Linked DNA regions of Homo sapiens. The gene in region 1 interacts genetically with each later gene. Each region holds a gene or a part of one and is shown in the gene's direction. Other genes may lie near its edges.

What was found. A genetic interaction does not mean that the proteins touch.
Region 2: of ATG10 (region 1) and IARS2, changing one enhances a phenotype caused by changing the other (phenotypic enhancement), as found in Homo sapiens cells (one large-scale study listed by BioGRID).
Region 3: of ATG10 (region 1) and EMG1, changing one suppresses a phenotype caused by changing the other (phenotypic suppression), as found in Homo sapiens cells (one large-scale study listed by BioGRID).
Region 4: of ATG10 (region 1) and CHAF1B, changing one enhances a phenotype caused by changing the other (phenotypic enhancement), as found in Homo sapiens cells (one large-scale study listed by BioGRID).

What each region holds. Positions count from the first base shown.
Region 1 is NC_000005.10:81,970,636-81,974,822, forward strand, and holds the start of ATG10 (ubiquitin-like-conjugating enzyme ATG10), read left to right. Parts: upstream 1-1,387; 5' UTR 1,388-1,671; exon of another isoform or gene 1,672-1,956; intron 1,957-1,973; exon of another isoform or gene 1,974-3,426; intron 3,427-4,187. UniProt on the Homo sapiens protein: E2-like enzyme involved in autophagy. Acts as an E2-like enzyme that catalyzes the conjugation of ATG12 to ATG5. ATG12 conjugation to ATG5 is required for autophagy. Likely serves as an ATG5-recognition molecule. Not involved in ATG12 conjugation to ATG3.
Region 2 is NC_000001.11:220,097,132-220,100,631, forward strand, and holds part of IARS2 (isoleucine--tRNA ligase, mitochondrial precursor), read left to right. Parts: intron 1-3,358; coding exon 3,359-3,500.
Region 3 is NC_000012.12:6,977,175-6,980,436, forward strand, and holds the end of EMG1 (ribosomal RNA small subunit methyltransferase NEP1), read left to right. Parts: coding exon of another isoform or gene 1-88; 3' UTR 89-192; coding exon of another isoform or gene 193-351; 3' UTR 352-423; coding exon of another isoform or gene 424-571; 3' UTR 572-1,166; coding exon of another isoform or gene 1,167-1,333; 3' UTR 1,334-1,428; coding exon of another isoform or gene 1,429-1,515; 3' UTR 1,516-2,296; coding exon of another isoform or gene 2,297-2,405; 3' UTR 2,406-2,762; downstream 2,763-3,262. Other genes in the region: LPCAT3 (lysophospholipid acyltransferase 5), read right to left, coding at 1-88, 193-351, 424-571, 1,167-1,333, 1,429-1,515, 2,297-2,405. UniProt on the Homo sapiens protein: S-adenosyl-L-methionine-dependent pseudouridine N(1)-methyltransferase that methylates pseudouridine at position 1248 (Psi1248) in 18S rRNA.
Region 4 is NC_000021.9:36,405,892-36,409,391, forward strand, and holds part of CHAF1B (chromatin assembly factor 1 subunit B), read left to right. Parts: intron 1-2,869; coding exon 2,870-2,939; intron 2,940-3,482; coding exon 3,483-3,500. UniProt on the Homo sapiens protein: Acts as a component of the histone chaperone complex chromatin assembly factor 1 (CAF-1), which assembles histone octamers onto DNA during replication and repair.

The sequences.
Region 1 (4,187 bases):
TTTCTAAAATATGGAGTACAATGTAAAGCAATGCATTCTTTTTTTAAAAATTTATTGTTATTTTGAAAAATTTTTGTAGAGATGAGGTCTCACTGCCTTGCCCATAGCTGGTCTTGAACTCCTGGGCTAAAGCGATCCTCCTACCTCGGGCTCCCAAAGTGCTGGGATTACAGGCGTGAGCCACTGCGCCCAGCCGCATTCTTGTTTTCATCTGTGAAATACGTTTTTAAGGTAAATACTTAAAGTTGATGGAGACACCTGGTCTACTTAAGCTCTCATTCAGAACACACTGCCTTGTGCTTTTAAAAAAATTAAATGGATAATCTAAATTGGCAGCTACCAATTAATTTATATCCATAGTTGCTAAAAAATGTTAGTGTAAGTTCATTTTTATTAGTCGCATCATTTTGAGTTTTAAACTATTTCACATGCAGTAAAATTTATACCTCTTATGGGTTTTGTCAAACAGTGGTTTAGTCACCAACACAATCACGGTATAGAAGCTCTCAAGCTCCTTTTCAGTCACCCCCTTCCTCCAGCCCTTTGCCCTGGTCGCCACTGATCAGTATTCTCTCCTTTTAAAAACACTTATTATTTGGAAATAATTATAGACACAGGAAATTGCAAAAATACTACAGCACCTAGAGTCCCGTGTACCTATCACCTAGTTTCCTCCAATGGTGACATCTTACACAACTGTAGTACAAGATCAAAAAACTATGTCATGTAGTTTGAAGGCAGGTTTTCCTTTCACTTCTTCGCCTGCATTTTCTCCTTTCATTTCCAACAAATTTAACTCTGTTGTTAGAAGGAGCAGATGCTAGTTTTCTTTCAGATGTCTGCTATTTCAGTTCGATTACCCCTGTTACTCCTACATTTTTTCTAGTCTTTATCCCCATCGTTTCGCCCCAATTTAATTTTGCTGCTAGTTTTTTTTTTTTCTCCTCTGGGATATGTGCCACAGATGGTACTATTGTCAATATTCGAATTCCTAACTTCTCCCTCCATCCGTAAGTTTTCAAGGGGTAGCCGTGCTTGTGCTTAATTGTGGTGTTTACAGGACTTTTTGTAGCGTAAGCATGCTGGCATGGTTCCCCAACCTCTTAGGGGGATGCTAGTAACCCGCTCCCCCGTCAACGAGCCGCCTTTGTGCTCCGCGGAGGGCACCGCCTGCGTTGGGTTGGAGGTGGGGGTTGGCGGGGGAGAGCTGCCCGCCAGGCGAGGGGCGGGGCCTTGGCGGGGGTGGTCGCGGGCGGCGGGGAGGTCTCGCTTCCCTCCTCTCCACCCGCTCCCAGTCCCGGCCTGGGTCTCAGCCCCGCCCTGCCCAGAGCGCGCGGCCGATCACGTCACCGGCCTGCGCTAGGCGGCCCCCACGGCGCGGGAAGGCGCAGTGCGCACGCTCCGACTCGGCCGTGGCGGACCTGACTGAAGGAGGCCGCGGACCTGACTGAAGGAGGCCACGGCCACTTCTGGTTGGCCTCGGGGCGCGCTGGCTCGGCTCTTCCTCCGCCCTCGAGGCCCCCGCAGTCCCATCATTCAGTTCCGTAGGGTCACCGGCGCGGCAGTGGCCTCGCAGGGCGCTGGGTCCCTCTCCCCAGCTCTCCTCCCCCTGGCCCCGTCGCCCCGCCCTCGCCGGGCTGGGCTGCGGGGTCAGGGGCCGAGCGGAGAGGGGTGAGTATTCCCCACAGCCCTTGCCGGTTGTCTCCTCCCGGCTCTGCTTCCCACACGGTCCTTGCCCCACTCCTAGGACAGGGAGGAAGGGCACGCGCGGGTAGGCGGGAAACAGCCCAGTCCTGAACAAAAGGCCGGGGAAGCGGGTCCCCGCCGGTAACTGCAGGCCTGTGCTGGCCGCCGCGAGCGGGGAAGGGCGAGGACACTCCCTCCTCGGGGACCCGGTCCCCGTCGCGCACACGGTGTCACCAGCACACCTGGCCCAGTACCCAAAGCACCCTCGAAGTGGGTAGTAACTACTTTGTGTTTAAAATCCACATACTGATAGCAAATCTTTGGTTGAAACAGTATTAAATTACTGGGGCTTCCAGTGGCTGAGTCCAACTTAATTTGAAGTTTCAGATTAAGTATCAGGAGGAATAACTTGATATTTAGAGCCAACAGGTCTTTCTTTTTTTTTTAAACCTCCCAAAAAACCTATAAAATCAAGAATTGGCGGGGAGGACCGGAGAATGATAAAGGAATAGTTGACTGATTTATAGAAACTTTTAGTGGCGGTAAAAATTACAAAAGTATTGGAAATAAGGCAAAAGGACAGCATGTTTTTTTCAGAGTCAAAATGGAGCCTAACAGGCCCACCTGAAGATGATTTAGATGTCTAGGGGACTATATTTTGTTTGGCATGATGATATTGATTAGGGCCTAGGCTTTGTAGTTAACATCTTTTTCATTAATGGAGATGCAAATTATTTCTGAGTGGGAGAGAAAAAAATACAGTACTCCTAAAGGTTGTAGTTTTAGTGCCTTGTAGGATATTAGCCATTTTTCTTTTCTTTTTTTTGAGACAGAGTCTTGCTCTGTCGCCCAGGCTGGAGTGCAGTGGCACGATCTCGGCTCACTGCAACCTCTGCCTCTCGGGTTAAAGCAATTCTCCTGCCTCAGCCTCCCGAGTTGCTGGGACTACAGGTGCCCGCCACCACGCTCAGCTAATTTTTGTAAGTTTAGTAGAGACGGGGTTTCACCATATTGGCCAGGCTGGTCCGGAACTCCTGATTTTGTGATCCGCCTGCCTCGGCCTCCCAAAGTACTGGGATCACAGGCGTCAGCCACCGCGCCCGGCCAATATTAACCATTTTTCTGTCTAACCTATCAAACTTACCATCCTTTCTTCAGTGTTTATGCTCAGTTCCTGAAATGCTTTTGAGCACACTAAGCCATTCAGCTTGTTCCATTGTGAGTTTAATAAATCTTTGTCACAGGTTCATTTTGAGTCATATTTATAACTTTTGTTATTGGACAATGGTCTCTATTCTTTAGTGGCAAAAACAAGTTTATGCTTCTCAGGATGGAAGGACATAGGCCCTGTGTGGTACTCAAATACATCTTAGGACTCCAAGTAGAATCCTTTCTCATTGCTTCAGAAAGGTTAAACAGTGACCAGAGGAAATGTTACAGAACTTTGACCAAAAAATAAATCCTGAGTATTGAGAAATTAAAATTAAAGTCTTGCAAATTGCAGAGTTTAAAAATTGTTATTGATATTTTAAATTGAAGAAATTAGTGGAAATAGTAGTTCTAAATTGCATACATTTGAATGTGGAGTGTTAAAAGATTATTTCCCTTGTCTCCTGTTTTATTTAGGATAAGGTTAACTGAGATTTTGGTACATGGTGGGCCATTCAAGTTATGTATAATGTTTTGTGACAAACTACATGTCGACAGTAGTTCCTGATGCCTAATACATTTCTGAGAAAGGTAAAGCAGCCCTTTAGGAAAAACAAGGAGAGTAAAGCTTACAGAAGATTTCTTAAGATGGGCTTGATTTGATTATCTTTGAAACCTAGAGATGTGTTTGGGACCCAGGAGGTTGTGTTTGAATCATAAATATAATCAGGGAACCTTAAGAAAAAAAAAGCCATGGAGATCATTTGGTGATTATCTATTGAAAACAAATGTTTTCAGGGGACAAGCAGCCTGAGTATAATAAAGCAATTAGAAAGTTGGGGAATGGAGAATAGGAGAATAAGCTGTACCTGAAGGAATCTTAATTAGGGAATGGTTGCTGAAAACTGCAGAGACAAGACTTCTCTAATGTGCTTACCTGATCACATAGTTTTATAGGATCCAGGAAGAGGGCTTAGTAATAGGAGTGTAGCTTTGAAGCTAGGGTTATTTCATATCACTGTCATGTAACATCTTTCTGAGAAAACCTTTTTATCATCTCTTCTGAGCTCAAGAACCTACACTGGTTTCCTATTGCCAATTGTTTTAAATGGAATCTCCTTTGGGTTTTTTGGTTTCTTCTTTTGGTTTTTTAAGAAGTGGGGTCTCTAAGTTGCCCAGGCTGGAGTGCAGTGGCTATTTAGAGGCACAATTAGAAGGCACTACACAGCCGTGACTCCTGGCTCAAGCAGCCCTCCTGCCTCAGCCTCCTGAGTAGTGAGGACTAAAGGCGAGAGCTATGTCTCCAAGCTTCCTTTGAGTTTTAAGACTGTAAACTTCCTGCACCCTGTCCC
Region 2 (3,500 bases), on another chromosome or scaffold:
AACATTAACTGGATTAAGCAAAGAGAGAGAATTTACTGGCTTTTTTACTGTAGAGTCCAGATAGTTTTAGCCACCTGCATAGCTGGATCAGGAATTCACATAAAATTAAGAATTGGTTTCTGTCTCTCACTCTTTGCTACTTTAGTGACTGCCCCACCCCAGACCCCCAGCACATTTCCCAGTAGTTTCAGGCTTACATAATTCCACCTTCTCTTTCCCAACAGTTCTTTTTTCTTTTTTTTTTTTTTTTGAGACAGAGTCTTGTACTGTCGCCCGGACTGGAGTGCAGTGGTGCAATCTTGGCTCACTGCAATCTCCGCTTCCCGGGTTCAAGCGATTCTCCTGCCTCAGCCTCCCAAGTAGATGGGACTACAGGCGCCTGCCACCACGCCCGGCTAATTTTTTGTATTTTTAGTAGAGAGGGGGTTTCACTGTGTTAGCCAGGATGGTCTCGATCTCCTGACCTCGTGATCTGCCCGCCTCTGCCTCCCAAAGTGCTGGGATTACAGGCGTGAGCCACCACGTCTGGCCCCCAATAATTCTTATAAAAGTCCTGGAATTGAATCTCATTGGCCTGATTTGGGTCGCACATCTATTTCTGAATCAGTCATTGCAGACTTGGGGATAGAATATGTTAATGGCTACAGTGGATCACGTGTTCACTCTTGGAGCTGCAGCAGAGGGAGCCAGCTCCATGTGGATTGAGGACAAAGGAATAATTCCATAAAAAACAGTGGCATCTTTTGTTGTTGTTGTTCTTTGAGACAGAGTCTCACGCTGTCACCCAGGCTGGAGTGCAGTGGCGCAGTCTCGGCTCACTGCAAGCTCCGTCTCCCGGGTTCACGCCATTCTCCTGCCTCAGTCTCCCGAGTAGCTGGGACCACAGGTGCCTGCCACCATGCCCAGCTAATTTTTTGTATTATTAGTATTATTTTTTAGTAGAGACGTGGTTTCACCATGTTAGCCAGGATGGTCTCCATCTCCTGACCTCATGATCCACCCGCCTCGGCCTCCCAAAGTGCTGGGATTACAGGCGTGAGCCACTGCACCCGGCCAAAACAGTGGCATCTTACAAAACTATCTCTCACATGAAGAGAAACCTTCTTGAAGCCCTTAGCAAAGAGCATGGGCACTTTGGAACTAGGGAAGGACCAATTCTTGCTCTTCCTCACACATGCTAATTATAGTCTTGCTTGCTTTCTCCTCTTCCTAGAATGCATCACCAGAATATTCACATGGATCACCTCCTCATTTCTTTCAGATTCTGTTCAAATGTCATCTTACCAGGCTCTCTTGACTTCCCTCTAAAATGGTACCACCCCCAGCCCCTAAATGTCATTTTCTAACCCTATAATTTGCTTTTTTCTCCATAGTGTGTGATATGTTGGTATATATTCTGTGTTCCTCCATGAGAAAAAAGACCTTGTCGTTTTTGTTTACTACTATATTCTAGGTTCCTAGAAAAATTCTTGACATACAGTAGGCATTCAGATATTTATCCCTCAAACAAAGCAATGCATGAATATTAGAAAAATGAAAGGAACAGAGATAAATGACTCTTAAAAGTATGGAGGAACTTTTTTTGGGGAGAAGGAGGGTGGTGTTTGATACTGAGGAGTTAGTAAAATATTCCTATGATATTGCTACTATTCTTTTCACTAGAGGCTTCATATATTATATTTTATTATTACATTTAAGAATCCTTATTAGGTACACTGTTAATTATTAGTTCCAGTGATTGATTTCATCCTGTTCATATGACTGAAAGCAACACTATTCAGTAGAAATACAATGCAAGCGGCTGGGCGTGGTGGGTCTGGCCTGTAATCCCAGCACTTTGGGAGGCTGAGGCGGGCAGATCATCAGGTCAGGAGTTCGAGACCAGCCTGACCAACATGGTAAAACCCCCTCTCTACTGAAAATACAAAAAAATTAGCTGGGCATGGTGGCATGTGCCTGTAATCCAGCTACTTAGGAGGCTGAGGCAGGAGAATCACTTGAACCTGGGAGGCAGAGGTTGCAGTGAGCCGAGATTGTACCACTGTTCTCCAGCTTGGGCGACAGAGCGAGACTCCGTCTCAAAAAAAAAAAAAAAAAAAAGAAATAAATATAATGCAAGCTATAAATTTGTGCCACATAGGTAAGTTAAAATTTTTCTAGTGGCCCCAGAAAATAATGAAAAGAAACAAGTGAAATTAATTTTAATATTACATTTAACTCAACATATCTAAAGTATCATTTCAACATACAGTCGATGTAAAACATTTTTGAGATATATCACATTTTCGTAAAACATGTTTGAAATCAGGTATATATTTTATAATTTACATTACATCTGAATTCGGACTAGCACCAAAAATCACATGTGGCCAGTGGCTACTATATAAGATACCATTGTTTAGAGCATATATGCATCCATGTATTCATGTATTTGATAAATATTTATAGACTAGTGCCAGAAACCATTCGAAAGGCTGGAATTCATAGGTGAAGAGGACAGATGGGCTCTCTGATTTCATGGAGTTTATGTTTTACAGGGAAGAGACAAAAAAATAAGTAAACAATTTCCAAAGAGTTAAGTAGAAAGGAGGTTATTTATATGATGATTGATTTAAATAATATACCCAGAGTAAAGTGAACCAATCTTAAGTATGTATAGCTAGATGAATTTTTTTTAATGTGACAACCACTCAGATCACAAGGCTCCTTCCTGTTCATTAGTAAACAGTTTGAAATTAGAGTTTTTAAAGGGGGGAAGGGATGGGAGGAGAATATAATAATATCTTTTCTACTTTTGATAGGCATGGAAAGGAGGAAATTGTTTTCTGGACTACTGGGCTAGTGGTCAGAGCACTGTTTCCTCTTGGGAAGAAGGAAATTGAGCTTGGAGCCAAATCTATCCTTTGCCTTTGATTCCTCCATTCAACTATAGTAATATATTTTTTAAAAGGCTCTGCTGCCCTCTGGTATCTAAAATGAATTTAAAAAGGTAAATTGGTTCTAGAACTATACCTAATGAAGAGGTCTACTGTTTTAGTAAGGGTTTGTCAATGACAGAGTTAACCACAATATTCCATTCTCTGAGTACACTGTAAGTTCTGCAATGGTTTGATGATATTTCTTAGCTCAATATAAATAATATTAGACTATTTGTGTCAATAGTTTTTTTATGAGTTAATTTATACGTTTCCTTTCAAATTGCAGTTTTAAAAATGGTATTAAGTTTAAAAAAAAGAACATAAATTGTAGGCCAAATATTTTATGTATGAATGCTAATTATCATTTTATCTTTGCAGATTTTGAAATACATGGCCAAATATTTTATGTATGAATGATAATTATCATTTTATCTTTGCAGATTTTGAAAGACATAGCCAATCGATTCCATATGATGAATGGCTCCAAAATACATTTTGTGCCCGGCTGGGATTGTCATGGGTTGCCCATTGAAATAAAAGTATTATCAGAACTTGGTAGAGAAGCTCAGAATCTTTCAGCTA
Region 3 (3,262 bases), on another chromosome or scaffold:
TTGGCACCATTGCTTTGTGAATATAAGGCAATATGAATAGTAGGCTCAGGAAGAAGATGTGGCCAAGGAAATAGATGGATTTATACACCTGTGGAGAGAGAGGCCACTAAGGTAGACAGGCCTGGAGTGTCCTTTGCAACCTTTGAGGTTGCAGTGAGTCCCTCCCAGTCTCACAAGCAGGCCTTCACTTGCCTTAAGCCATTTGTCCCACGTGAAGAGGCAGAAGGCAGTCATGGAGTAACCCATGAAGAGCCAGTGGATGGTCTGTTGCACCAAATAGTAGAAGGGCTGGAGGACAGTAATGGCGGCCAGCTTGCTCAGGGTGGGGCTCTCTTGAATGAGCCTGGCAGCCTGGGGAGGGAGGAGGAGCTCATCAGCATCTTGTCCCTTATATTCCCCTTCACCCCCACCCTGGAGGCCTACCTGTCTTTCCACAATAACAATGAGGAATTCCATCTGGAAGCAGACCAGGTATCCTGAGTGCAGGCCGTGCCAGAGGGCCAGGAATAGCAACGAGAGACCCTGAGAGAGTTCTTTATTTCCAAGGAACTTGAGTCGTTTGAAGATGTAGCTGGAGAAAAGGGTGGGTGGGGCGACCCTCAAACTGACTGGTCCTTGCATCCCGCCACCTGCCTCTGGGTCCTCACCCTGAGGATTGGATTGGAGTGCTGGTGGGTTCCCACGTGTAGCCCCCAGAGGGTACAGGAGGCAGTGCTGACTGATTACTTTTAGAGATGGAAAGCAGACCCAAGGCGGAGCTGGAGACCGTGTGCGCACGAGCCACTTGGTTCAGCAGCAGTGACTGAGGCTGATGCTGAGATCAGTGGTGAACCAGACACTCTACTCAAGCTGCCCACACTCTAGTGGTGGGGACAAACAAGTAAAGCTGTTGATAAACAGGGCAGTGGAGGACATAAGTCCATTGGCAGAGCTGGAGTAACACCCAGGTCTTAACGCACTTTTATATCTTGCCTTTTTTTCAAATATGACAGTAATGGTTTTTTTGGGAGGGGGGTATAGGTGGGGGTCAAAGTCAGTGTGAGCGACAGGGGGTTCTGCCCAGATGGGAAAGACGCATAGGGGTGACATGGTACACCCCTGCCCTCCAATCTGGGAAGACAGTGGAAGGAAGGAACCAGGGTCCAGGCTCCCCACCAGCAGCTCACCGGGCCACCCAGGCGTTGGTGTTGATGTTGAATGAGGCAATGGTGCCAGTGAAGCGGGGGTTTGTTTCAAAGAGCCACACCTTCATGTTGGCACAGGCATCCCACTTTGCCTTGCCCTTTTCTTCAAAGCCATTGAAGCCCAGGCCCGTCAAAATGCATACTCCTTCCTGAGAGGGAATAGCTCAGTTAGGGCTCTTGCCACTCCCCATACTGGCCCCCATGGCTTGTCTAAATAGGACCTTGTTTCAACTTTTCTACTTACTGTGACCAGCCAACAGGTGACATATTTGTACAGCACAAACTTGCCCCAGATCAGCATGTACATGCAGCGGAACCAGAAGGGGTGGTTCTTGAGGGAAGAAAGCACAGTGCATTAGGGATATCACATGACTAGGCAGTTTCTCTCAGCACTCTTCCTTTTCACACTTGTGGCTGGCTACTTCATACCTGCCTGAGTCCTGCTGCCAGATGCCCTCAATAGTCTGGCCTGATTGCCTTCACAATAGGCAGAGAGGAATAAGCAGAGGGCCTGGAGAATATTCATTCGCCTTTCCCTTGGAGAGCCTCAAGGGCAGCACTGTATTTAACTTCTCTACTGTTTGCCTTCGTTGGCAAAGTGTTTGGAATGAGCATTTGGAATGTTAAGTACAGAGGGGCCCATATTGGATTTTAATTTAAGGAGAGAAACCTGCCCAGAATTACTGAACTGTTTTCAAGCCTTTCAGCTGGGCAGGAGCAAAAGCCAGCACTTCCCCCCTTCCCTTGGTTTCTGAATTCCCTAGAAGTGCCCAAATGTATCAGTCAAGAGAAGAAAATAGGATGGAGAATCAGAAGCTGCTGTGCTCTGAGGGGTCACGTGGATGTGATAAGGCAAGCTAGGAGCGGCTCCTAGAGAAGGCAACGGGTGCTAAATGTGCACCTGGCACAGCCCTGTGCCCGCGAAGGTTGTTCAGTGCTGGCTGATGAACATGTCCCAGCACGGCTGGCATTGACAACTCACAGATCTAGAGCAAAACCAACATGCACTTGTAGATGATATTTCCTACTTCTCTGCTATCTGTAGGGATCCTTGCCTGTCCATTTTCTAGCTCTGGTGCAGTCATGCTGCTGCTGCTTTAGTAGACACTCACGTCATAGTCTTCAGTGAGGAGATAGTCTTCTGTGATGTGGGGGCTGAGCAGTGTGTAGCCCACTAGGTAGAAAAGGCCCAGACTCAGGCGCTTGAGAGCAGGAATGATGCTGGAAAGGAACGAGTGAAGTTCCTGGTCACAGAGAGCAGAGACTATTCCCTTCACCCTCTGACCTTCAGTTATGGAGAGGAGTGTTTAGGGGTGTGGTTGTCTACCTGGAATGGGATGAGAAGCTCTGCTGCCCAAAGTGTTTCCTGTTTCAGGGAAAGATTTCTATGGCTGGCTATGAGGAATGGGGACTGCAAACCTCTTAAGAGTTGTAGGAAAGTCAGGGCAGCAGACAGTGGACCAGTCTTGTGTTTACCCCTCAGGGATGCTACTGATCTCAAGGTCTTGCCAGGTCTCACAATCTCCATTGGGACTGAAAACCCAGTGGAGGTAAGATAATAAAAATAACCACTTTGAATCTGCTCCTTCATTTCTTGGTTGAATTGATGCTGAAACACAGGATGGACAAGTTCTCAGTGAAGGAATTCTTCTGGCAATTAAACTTTTTTTTTTTTTTTTTTTTTACCATTTTAATTTTTATTTTCTAGAGTCAGGGCCTTGCTCTGCCACTCCGGCTAGAGTACAGAGGCATAGTCATTGCTCGCTGTGGCCTTGAACTCCTGGGCTCAAGCGATCCCCTTGCCTTGGCCACCTGAGTAGCTGGGACTATAGGCATGTACCACCTTGCCTGGATAATTTTTTTTTGTAGAGATGGGGTCTCACTATGTTGCCCAGGCTGGTCTTGAACTCCTGGCCTCCAGTGATCCTCCTGCCTTGGCCTCCCAGAGCGTTGGCATTACAGGCATGAGCCACTGTGCCCTCCTGCATTTCCTACTGATAAATATTTTTGAGACAGGATTTTGCTATGTTGCCCAGAATGGAGTGCAGTGGTGTGATCAAAGCTCACTGCAGCCTTGA
Region 4 (3,500 bases), on another chromosome or scaffold:
TTTAATTGGATGAAATCTCAGCTTTGTTTAGTAGAATAAATGCTGAAGAATAGCCAAAGAAGTATTAAAAAAAAAACAGTGATACTTGGGAGGGCATTTGCCTCACCACATATCAGAAGATCCTATAACACTACTTTTAGCCAATCAATATGGTGTTGCTATAGGACCAAACAAATAGATTAGTGGACCAGAACACAGAATCCAGAAAAAGATCTCAGGATATAAGGCGATTTAATATATGACCTCAGGTGCTGTTCCAGTGGAAAAAAATCTATTATTTATTTGTAATTAATTGTATGTTACTTAAATAATTCTCAAGAGAATTAGACACTGAAGGCAGATAGGACAAGAGTATGTCATTAAGAAGGTTGGGAAGTGTTGAGATTGGACAAAGACCTATTCCTCTTTTTTTTGAGAGGGTTTCACCCTTGTCGCCCAGGCTTGAGAGCATTGGCGTGATCTTGGCTCACTGCAACCTCCATCTCCTGAGTTCAAGTGATTCTTCTGCCTCAGCCTCCCAAGTAGCTGGGATTACAGGCGCCGGCCACCATGCCCAGCTAATTTTTGTATTTTTAGTAGAGATGAGGTTTTACCATGTTGGCCAGGGTGGTCTCAAACTTCTGATCTCAGGTGATCCACCCGCCTCAGCCTCCCAAAGTGCTGGGATTACAGGCGTGAGCCACTGCACCTGGCCTCCTTTTTTTTTTAATTGACAGATGAAATTGTATGTAGTTGTGTATGACATGATGTTTTGAAGTATATATATGTTGTGGAATGACTAAATCTAGCTAATTAGCATAGCATGGTCTCACATAATTAGGATTTCTGTGGTTTGAACGCTTTATATCTCTTAGCATTTTTCAGGAATATAATACATTGTTATGAACCATAATCACCATGTTGTACAAGAGATGGATCTTGCAAAGGGAGGACTCTATTATTGAATGAGTAGTGCTGGGGTAGCCAGCTATGTGGAAGAAGGTAAAATTGGACCCCTTGCCTAGATGTAAAAAATAAATTCCAGGTGAATTCAGTACTTAAACACAAAAGGTAAAAATAGAAAACTCTTGTAAGGAAATATAGGAGGACATTCTAGGAATGGAGAAGACCCAATTAAGACTGGAAACTGGCTGGGCATGGTGGCTCAAGCCTGTAATCCCAGCACTCTGGGAGGCCAAGGTGGGTGGATCACCTGAGGTCTGGAGTTCAAGACCAGCCTGGCCAACATGGCAAAACCCTGTCTCTACTAAAAATACAAAAATTAGCCGGGCATGGTGATGCACACCTGTAATCCCAGCTACTCAAGAGCCTGAGGCAGGAGAATCGCTCCAACCCAGGAGGCAGAGGTTGCAGTGAGCCAAGATCGCACCACTGCACTCTAGCCTGGGCAACAGAGTGAGACTCTGTCTAAAAAAAAAAAAAAAAAGTATATGTTCAAGGATGCTTATTGCAAGCATTGTTTATAGTGGTAAAAAACCAAAAGCCAAAAAAATACTCATTAACAGAGGCTGGGTGAATGAATCTTGCAGTAAATATTATGCAGCTACAAAAAAATAATGCATCAGTGCTATGCAAGTTAACTTTCATGAGTAGTTGATTGAAACAAGCAAAATAAGGAGAAGTGTCAGTTTTGTAAAACAAATGGACTCAATAAAAAATATCATAGAGGTATACATGTGATTGAGTTATAACTGATTGTAATGATTATGTGAGCATGGAGGAAATATACAGATGACATAATGGTTTGTTGAATGTTAAAATGGATTTCTTGGGGATGGAAGAATGGAGTGGGATGAAAAGAGGGGCCTGGGTGCAGTGACTCACGCCTGTAATCCCAGCACTTTGGGAGGCGGAGGAGGGCAGATCACTTGAGGTCAGGAGTTCGAGACCACCCTGGCCAACATGGTGAAACCCCCTCTCTACTAAAAATACAAAAATTAGCCGGGCATCGTGGCAGGTGCCTGTAATCCCGGCTACTCAGGAGGCTGAGGCAGGGGAATTGCTTGAATCTGGGAGGTGGAGGTTGCAGTGAGCCAAGATCACGCCATCGCACTCCAGCCTGGGTGACAGAGCAAGACTCCATCTCAAAGAAAAAAAAAAGAGGGCAGCTATGTAGAATGTATTAATAATAATAATAAAAAAGACTATTGATACTGTCTACTGCCCTCCCTGGTGGATATGAAACAGTCATATGTAAAGTTACGTGTGTGTATATGTATCAAGAAATAGCATAAAACAGGGAGATGTTTCCAAGAGCAGCAGTGTATGATGGTCACTCTGACAGGGCTGAACTGTTTTAAGTACAGCAGGGGGTGAGTGTAGAAGAGCTCTCAGATGGGGACTGTTCCCCAGAGTGAAGTCAGGTTCTGAAGGAGGCTGGAGGTTTCAGCAGAGGGCAAGGTCTCCTGGCAGCCTCATGGCTGGATAGGGAAGTTGGGGAAAGGCGAGTCTCAGCCTTTGGATGGCATCCAAGGCTGGAATCCAGGAAATAGAGATGAGGGTCCTAGGGAGAAAGGAGCCTGGGCAGCTGAATCTAGTCACGGTGCTTCAATCGAGGAATTGCCTGGAGGCTCAACGGTGCCCTATGGCAAAGGCTCACTATGTTCTCCTCGCCCAAGATCAGAACCAGGTCCCCGGGGATTGCCCACAGGTAGGTGGAGATGACAGGTAGGTAGAACTGGAGTAAGGGCTGAGAACAGACAGTGCCGGAATATATGTTTTTGTGCTCTGTCACAACATTGTCCAGAGAATATAACTGCAGGGGGAAGTATTTTGCAAACCGGACCTGAAGGCTCTTGAGTTTCTGTTGGTGAACAGTTTGCTGAAACAGTGACTTTTCTTTCCTCTCCCTCCCTTCCCTGTTCCCCAGCTGGATGTGTGGAATCTGGTGAAAATGTAATGAATACCACTTATGTTTTCTCCAGGAAGAATCTTAAAAGGTATGCAGTCAAGGAAATGTTTGAAATGTTTACATTTTTTTTAGACGGAGTTTCGCTCTTGTTGCCCAGGCTGGAGTGCAATGGTGCGATCTCTGCTCACTGCAACCTCTGCCTCCCGGGTTCAAGTGATTCTCCTGCCTCAGCCTCTTGAGTAGGTGGGATTACAGGTGCCCGCCACCACTCCTAGTTAATTTTTGTATTTTTAGTAGAGATGGGGTTGCACCATGTTGGCCAGGTTGGTTTCAAACTGCTGACCTCAAGTGGTCCGCTTGCCTCGGCCTCCCAAAGTGCTGGGAATACAGGCATGAGTCATTGCACCCGGCTTGTATTTTTTTTTTTTTTTTTTTTTTAGTAGAGATGGGGTTTCGTCATGTTGGCCAGGCTGGTCTTGAACTCCTGACCTCAGGTGATCCGCCTGCCTCCTCCTCCCAAAGTGCTGGGTTTATAGGTGTGAGCCACCGCGCCCTGCCAAAATGTTTACCTTTTATTTTTGCTTTTGCTTAGTCACAGTGCCTTTTCCTAACACTGCAATTAATCCATTAGGCCCATCGCTCATCTTCC